Linked DNA regions of Homo sapiens. The protein of the gene in region 2 interacts with the protein of the main gene of each other region in a pairwise test. Each region holds a gene or a part of one and is shown on either strand. Other genes may lie near its edges. The genes, in order: NR1I3 and SNX13.

Evidence for each region.
Region 1: the proteins of SNX13 (region 2) and NR1I3 interact in a two-hybrid assay, tested with the Homo sapiens proteins (one large-scale study listed by BioGRID and IntAct).

What each region holds. Positions count from the first base shown.
Region 1 is NC_000001.11:161,235,297-161,239,605, forward strand, and holds the start of NR1I3 (nuclear receptor subfamily 1 group I member 3), read right to left. Parts: upstream 2,908-4,309; 5' UTR 2,765-2,907; coding exon of another isoform or gene 2,745-2,764; intron 1,303-2,744; 5' UTR 1,270-1,302; coding exon 1,163-1,269; intron 682-1,162; coding exon 551-681; intron 1-550. UniProt on the Homo sapiens protein: Binds and transactivates the retinoic acid response elements that control expression of the retinoic acid receptor beta 2 and alcohol dehydrogenase 3 genes.
Region 2 is NC_000007.14:17,797,341-17,801,158, reverse strand, and holds part of SNX13 (sorting nexin-13), read left to right. Parts: intron 1-2,004; coding exon 2,005-2,150; intron 2,151-2,400; coding exon 2,401-2,469; intron 2,470-3,818. UniProt on the Homo sapiens protein: May be involved in several stages of intracellular trafficking. May play a role in endosome homeostasis. Acts as a GAP for Galphas.

The DNA.
Region 1 (4,309 bases), on a different chromosome or scaffold from region 2:
CTCTGTCACCCAGGCTGGAGTGCAGTGGCGCGATCTCGGCTCACTGCAAGCTCCGCCTCCCGGGTTCACGCCATTCTCCTGCCTCAGCCTCCCGAGTAGCTGGGACTACAGGCGCCCGCCACTACGGCCGGCTAATTTTTTTTGTATTTTTTTAGTAGAGACGGGGTTTCACTGTGTTAGCCAGAATGGTCTCGATCTCCTGACCTCGTGATCCGCCTGCCTCGGCCTCCCAAAGTGCTGGGATTACAGGCGTGAGCCACCGCGCCCGGCCTGGTGTTTCTAAGAATGACAGTGAAGTCAGTGTGGCTAGAATTGGTTGAGTAAAGGGGGAAGAGTATGAAATAAAGTCTGAAAGGTGTTGTGGGAGAGCTAGATCATGAGATCACGTACTTTGAGATGGGGAGCCATTGGATGTCTTGAGTGAATAGTGACATAATCCAACTAGTTTCAAAAAGAGTACTGTGCCTGCTATGTAGAGAATGCACTGTTGGGAACAAGGACAAAGACAGACGCAGTCAATGGATTCTTGAGATGTAGGGGGCCAACTCACTGTCTTTCCTCATGCCAGCATCTAAGCACTTCTGCAACCTGCAGGCTGGGCAGTGGCGCCTCTGAGTCTTGCTGACTTCACAGCTTCCAGCAAAGGGGCAGGTGGGACCAATGCTTTTGCTGACTGTTCTCCTGTGAGACACAGAGATGTTGTTAGAGTCTGGGATGCAATGGATAGGTGAGGGGCTGAGATGACATGGTCTAAAAGACCTGGGAATCTGGTGAAATGGACTAATCTGAGCTGTGCCCAAAGGTCCCCAGGGGTGGATAGTATCCAACACATCTCAAGCATTTCCATGGCAACACAGGATCACTCCAGAAAGCCTAGTTGATGTAGTACTAGCTAGGTGCTTCACAGGCAGTGGGTACATAATAAATGCTCTTGACTAATGGGCTGTGTCCATCAGACAAACATTCAGCTTTCCCTCTGTTATGCCACCAGTTTATACAGTGATGTGTTTGGCAAGATGTAGGATGCCAGCCACAGGGTAGTTAGACTCTAAGATAAAGGAGTAATGTAGCTGGACAGGCTTGGGCACCAGCGAGGGTGTAAAGGCTGACTAATAGGGAGTTTGGTTTGGAGGGCTATTTCCATTGGGGAGGAGACTCTCACCTGAAGAAACCCTTGCAGCCCTCACAAGTCAGCGCATTAAAGTGGTAGCCTGTGGCTTGGTCCCCACATACCACACAGTTCCTCAGCTCATCTTCCCTACTGGCCATGACGTCACGTGTTGGGGTGGCTGTCACAGACTCCTGAATGTAGGAGGGGTCAGCAGTCAGTTTTGGGCCACCCTTGACCCTTTTCTGTCCCTTCTAGAGAGTCTCTTTCCAAACCAAACCAAACATGCCCTTGACTTGATCCCTGGCGTTATCTTTTGTGGTTTTCTTTTTCTTTTTCTTTTTCTTTTTTTTCTGACACAAGTTCTTGCTCTGTCACCTAGGCTAGATCTCTGCTCATTGCAACCTCTGCCTCCTGGGCTCAAGCAATCCTCCACTTCAGCCTCCTGAGTAGCAGGGACTACAGGTCCAGACCACCATGTCCAGCTAATTTTTGTTTATTTATTTATTTATTTTTTTTGTAGAGATGGGGTTTTGCCATGTTGCCCAGGTTGGTTTTTTTGTTTATTTTTTTTTGTTTATTTGTTTGTTCTGTTTTTTGAGATAGAGTCTTACTCTGTTGCCTAGTGTTGCCTAGGCTGGAGTGCATCATAGTTCAATGTAACCTCACACTCCTGGGCTCAAGGGATCCTCCTGCCTCAACCTCCTGAGTAGCTGGAACTATAGGTACACACCACCACACCAGGATATTTTTTTCTTTTCCTTCCTTCCTTCCTCCCTCCCTCTCTTATTCCTTTCTTTCCTTTTTTTTTTTTTCCCTGAAATTGAGTCTTGCTCTGTCACCCAGGCTGGAGGGCAGTGGTGCAATCTTGGCTCGCTACAACCTCCGCCTCCCAGATTCAAGTGATTCTCATGCCTCCGCCTCCTGAGTAGCTGGGATTAAGGTGCCCGCCACCATGCCCAGCTAATTTTTTATTTTTAGTAGAGATGGGGTTTCACCATATTGGCCAGGCTGGTTTCAAATTCCTGACTTAGGCCTGGTGCAGTGTCTCATGCCTGTAATTCCAGCACTTTGGGAGGCCGAGGTGGGCGGATCACCAGGTCATGAGATCGAGACCATCCTGGCCATCATGGTGAAACCCCGTCTCTACTAAAAATACAAAAATTAGCTGGGCATCGTGGCATGTGCCTGTAGTCCCAGCTATTTGGGAGGCTGAGGCAGGAGAATCGCTTCAACCTGGGAGGCAGAGGTTGCAGCGAGCCGAGATTGCGCCACTGCACTCCAGCTTGGGCGACAGAGCGAGACTCCATCTCAAAAAAAACCCAAAAAAACAAAACAAAAAACAAAAAAACAAAAAAACAAATTCCTGACTTCAAGTGATCAATCCTCCCACCTTGGCTTCCCAAAGTGCTGGGATTACAGGCATGAGCTCCCGCGCCTGGCCTCTTTTCTTTCTTTTTTGTAGAGATGGGGTCTGTTATGTAACCCAGGTTGGTCTTGAACTCCTGGGCTCAAGCGATCCCCCCACCTTGGCCTCCCAAAGTGCTGGAATGACACACGTGAGCCACTATGCCTAGCCCCCAGCATTATCTGTATTTTATTACATTTAGTCTTTGGTCCCCAACAGATTTCCTACCTGCTTCTCTTAGGCAGCATGTCACCTGCAGGCCACAGAATCTGGTATGGAATGCCTCTCCCCAAACTCCCACGCTGTTGCTGGTTTTCCTCTGATCTCAGGAGTTGCCAGTGATTGGAGTTAGGGATTATGACCCGTAGTATCTGGAAAACAAGAGATGTCTGTTTTATGTGGCCTCCAGTTGCTCTCAGTGACTGTGGGGTTAGGGCACAGACCCTGGACTCAGGGCAAAGGCCTGGGTGGGAGGTTTTCCCAGCATGACAAAAGTGCTGGTTGGTGGCACACGGGGAGGGACTCCAGTGGGTGGGAACCTTGTGACTCATTGGAAGCTGCTGCTTATTAGACTCATCGAGATTTTCCCTGTTGATGAGTTTAAGGCTACATCTGCAGCCTTCTGTGTACAGAGATCCTGAACAAGCTGGGAAGAGAGAGAGAGAGAGAGAGACAGGCAGACAGACAGAGCAAGCTTTTTCACACGCAGTATGTCAGTACTAAAAGAAGAGGTGTGACAGTTCCACAAGGCTCCCCCAAAAAAAGTTTTTAAGAGACTAGGGGCTGGGCACGGTGGCTCACACCTGTAATCCCAGAACTTTGGGAGGCTGAGGCAGGCAGGTTACTTGAGGTCAGTAGTTCGAGACCAGCTTGGATAACATGGTGAAACCCTGTCTTTACTAAAAATACAAAAATTAGCTGGGCATGATGGCACATACTTGTAATCCCAGCTAATTGGGAGGCTGAGGTGGGAGGACTGCTTGAACTCGGGAGGCGGAGGTTGCAGTGAACTGAGATCATGCCACTGAACTCCAGCCTGGGCACAGAACAAGTGAGACTCCGTCTAAAAAAAAAAAAAAAAGAGAGAGAGAGAGAGACTACGATCTAAGTAAGAGCTTACGGAAAGAGCCCTCTCACTTCCTAACTAGGGAGGGCTGAGAATCAAATCAGAGTGACCACAGGGCACAGTGACATGCCCTGTACATCCCCCTACTCTGGAGACAGGGAGAGAATGGTTTGAGCCCAGGAGTTTGAATCCAACCTGGGCAACATAGCAAGACCCTATCTCTAATAATAATAATAATAAAGTGCTATTTTTAAAAAATATTTTTTTTTTGGCTGGGCGGGGTGGCTCATGCCTGTAATCCCAGCACTTTGGGAGGCCGAGTTGGGCAGATCATGAGATCAAGAGATCTGGCCAACGTGGTGAAACCCTGTCTTTACTAAAAATACAAAAATTAGCCAGGCATGGTGGCGCACGCTAGTATTCCTAGCTACGTGGAAGGCTGAGGCAGGAGAATTACTTGAACCCGGGAGGCAGAGGTTGCAGTGAGCCGAGATCGCAGCACTGCACTCCAGCCTGGGTGACAGAGCGACCACACCCAGCTAATTTTTGTACTTTTAGTAGAGCTGGGGTTTATGTTGACCAGGCTGGTCTCGGACTCCTGACCTCGTGATCCGCCCGCCTCGGCCTCCCAAAGTGCTGGGATTACAGGCGTGCACCTGTAATAATAGCTACTGTGCCCGGCCTATTTTTCTTTGTTTTGCTATTATGTCTTCTGCTTCTTCATTTG
Region 2 (3,818 bases):
ATTTGTTATATCATGAATAATACTTCTATGAACATTCGTACATGTCTGTACATGTTTCTATTGGATCTATACTTAGGAATGAAATTGCTGTATCAGGATATATATATATATATATATATATATATATATATATATATATATATATATATGTTCAGTTTTAGTAGATACTGCCAAGTACTTTTTCAAATTATTTGTACCACTTACATTGCCATCAACAGTACATGAGAGTTCCAGTGTTCTACATCCTGCCAGTACTCAGTATTTTGTTTTTTTAATTTTAGCCATTCTGGTTGTTATATTTCATGCGAATTTGCGTTTCTGTGATAACTGTTGAAATGTTACACACCTTTTTATATGTTTATTGGCCATTTGAATGTTCTGTCTTATGCGTCTGTCAAGACCTTTTGTCATTTTTCTGTTGGCTTAGCTGTCTTAGTTCTTAGCTATCTTAGTTCTTTTGATTAGTAGGAGTGCTTTATGTAATCTGAATGTGAGTTGTTTGTCAGATATATGTAATACATTGTCTTCTCTCTAGGTTTCTTTCTTGTGCTATATATGTTATCTGTGCCTATTGCAGGGTCACAGAGATGTCCTATAATTTTCTTTAAAAACATTTTTTGTTTTACTGTAACAACATTTAAGTTTGCAGTTCATCTGGGATTGATTTTTGTATATGGATTGAAGTATGGGTCCAGTTGATCCAAGCACCATTTACTGAAAAGGCCATCTTTTCCCCACTGTACTGTTTCTCCCTTATCACAAATCAGGTTACCATATATGTTTGGATCTGTTTTATTCTGTTCTATTAGGCAGATTTATTTTAAGTTGTAATTATCTCCTTTCTGTTTCTAATCGAATTTGTTTATAATCAACTGTCTTAATCAAAAATAATATTTTCATTTGGTTTTTCAAGATTATTTTAGGATGTTTATTATGTTTATTGATGGTATAATATCCATAACATTGTACCTTTGGTATGTGGTTTTTACAGTTTAGCTATTTATTAGATTTTCATATGGCACCAAACTCGTAGGAATATACTTGATCAGAGAATACAGAAGTTTTTATTCTGTCTCAGTAATGAAATGGGTCTCCCTCTCCCTACTGGTTTTGATTAAGCTGTATGATTTCAGTTTTTGAAATGGAAGGTGCACTAAGGAAATGTTTGTAACGTGACAGTGAAAAATGTATAACTCATGCTTTCTTGCCAGTATTTAAATTACAGTGTTGATGAGGAAATAATTGGAAACAGTTTCTCAGTGATGAAAAAATTATAAAATTACTAACAATTATATGTGGTACTAAATCTGTACCTGCTTTTTATTTTATACGTATTTTTTTGCATCAAAGCATTCCGATCGTCTTCCTTTTTACCTTAGTGGTTGTATACTTAGTGGTTGTATACTCCCATAATACTGACTTTTATTTGCTAAAAGCTAAAAGAAAATTCTAGTAATTTAGTAAACTATGCCTTTTGTAATGTGAATTTAGTTGTGTGATGGATTGAACTTCAGCATCTTTTTCCTGAAAGTACATAAATACATACAATTTACTAACTAAGCAAAATACATTATTCTGTATCATTCATGTTTTGTTCTATTAAATATATGGAGATGTTGAGAATATCTTATTCTTGTGAAAAAGATGCATCAGAAAATAGACAAAGGGTCTAGCATTTGCCTTATCAAACTCATACAGTCTCTTCCAATAGTAAGAACCAAATCATCTTTTCCTAGGACCATCATGAATCTACTTTGCCTTGAAAATGTTAAACTATAGCCTTAAAATTTATTCATTATTGTGGGGCTATGAAGTTCTGTATTCTGTCAGAATGACTACTAGAAATATTTTTTCTACATTAGAATTTAATGTCAAGTTACAAAGGCTAAAATGTAACTTGTTCTCTGACTTGTGAAATATCAATCATTTCGTAAAAGCAACAAAAGTAACAATTCATAGTAGATAGCTAACTCAAACTTATTCTTATTTCTTATATTTTGTCAGGTGGATGACAATATTCCACTTAGGGTAATGCTGCTTCTCATGGATGAAGTATTCGACTTAAAAGAAAGAAATCAGTGGTTGCGAAGGAATATCAAAAACCTACTTCAACAGCTTATTAGAGCTACATATGGCGATACTATTAATAGGTAGCACTCTTTCCTCCTCGCTTTTAATCTGATCTTACTTAGCTATTAAACTCTTACTTCTGGAAGTAGATTGCTCAACCTTTGTAGGAGAATTTTTTTCTCTGGGCCTTTTAAGGACATCATTAAAGCAGTCTGTTGCTCTCAGGGATAATTTACATCCAGATTAAGTTGCTTGCTCTATGAAAGTCACGTTTATTTTTTTCACCTTCTAAAATTTTAACCTTCCTCATTTACATTAATTTACTTTCAGAAAAATAGTTGACCATGTTGACTGGATGACTTCACCTGAACAAGTAGCCGACTCAGTGAAACGTTTCAGGTATATCTTAAGACACAGTCACTTCTTTCAGGTAGTACAGAGTTTAGCATTGTTATCACTAATTAACTTTCATTGCTTTTGTTTCCTTCCTGGACATAAAGTTGGTTTAGTTATCATTGATGAGCAAAAAGACTTCTAAGAATTATACTAAACATTTGTCTTATGAACCTATTGATCTTTGTTTCTTTAAAACCAGAATAGGAAAAGTAAGAAGAAAGATCTTTCAAATGATAGGCTACATTTTATCACAGTACCATGGCTGTAAGATAATTGAAATATTCACCTAAAAATGATATGGTTGTATCATCAAATATCTAGTTTTGGGGATTAGTTTTTCTCAGTTGTATTTTCTAACCTTCATTTTAAATGAAATTGTTTTAAGTAAGTCTCTCTGGCTATGTTGTAATTTTTTATTAAATATTGGAACCTCTACAAGGAACAAAAATTAAGTAGGTACCCTACTTCATATTTCTTTCTACAAAAAATACTGAGCGCCTCCTCTGTGCCTAGCACTCAGCCCATTGCTGAGATAAGATGCAGTCCCTTGAGGAAAGTACAGATAGTAGAGAAATAAACCTCTTTTCTGAAAGTGAAGATAAGCAATGCGTAAAAATTCATGGCATCATGTATTTTGAAGGGAAGGAAAGGAAGCAAGAAGGGAACTATCAGTATTGAACACTAAGTTCTTGGCACTGTGCACAGTACTTTATGTATGCTTTCTGATTTTATGCCATTTTTCGAGGTAGGTATTTTTGTCTCTATTTTGTTATAAGGAAATTGAGGATTAGAGAAGTTGAATAGGCTCTCAGGCTACAAAGTGGGGAATCTGGTTTCTCTAATCTGAAGCTAAGTTTCTTCCCACTGTACCATACTGTTTCCAAAACTTGGACTAGCTGCCCTGGCATGTTCATTTTATTTCAGGGTAGGTAAATGATGTTCCTCTGGAGTGGTGATTATCAGCTTTGGCTGTTCATTGGAATCACCTCTAGAGCTTTAAAAATTACTAATGCCTAGATCCCATGTCCAGGGAGTCTGACTTAATTAATCCAATGAAAGGCCTGAACATGAAGAGCCTGTAAAGCTCTCAGGTGCTTCTAATGTGTAAAGTTAAGAACAGCTGCTCTGGGGAGTCTTGCCCTTACACCAAATTCCCAGATGAAAGCTTAGTTTTTGTGCTCAGTCCCTGCCTTCAGACCAAGAATTAGGGAACAGGAGTAAAGCACACTGAAAGTTAAGAAGAATGGGTTGTTTTACTTGTGAAAGGACCATTATAGTCAATCCATCTGTAAGTTGTGGGCTTAGAATTTAGTATTATGTAGGCTTAATTATAAGAGGAGTGGGATGGCATA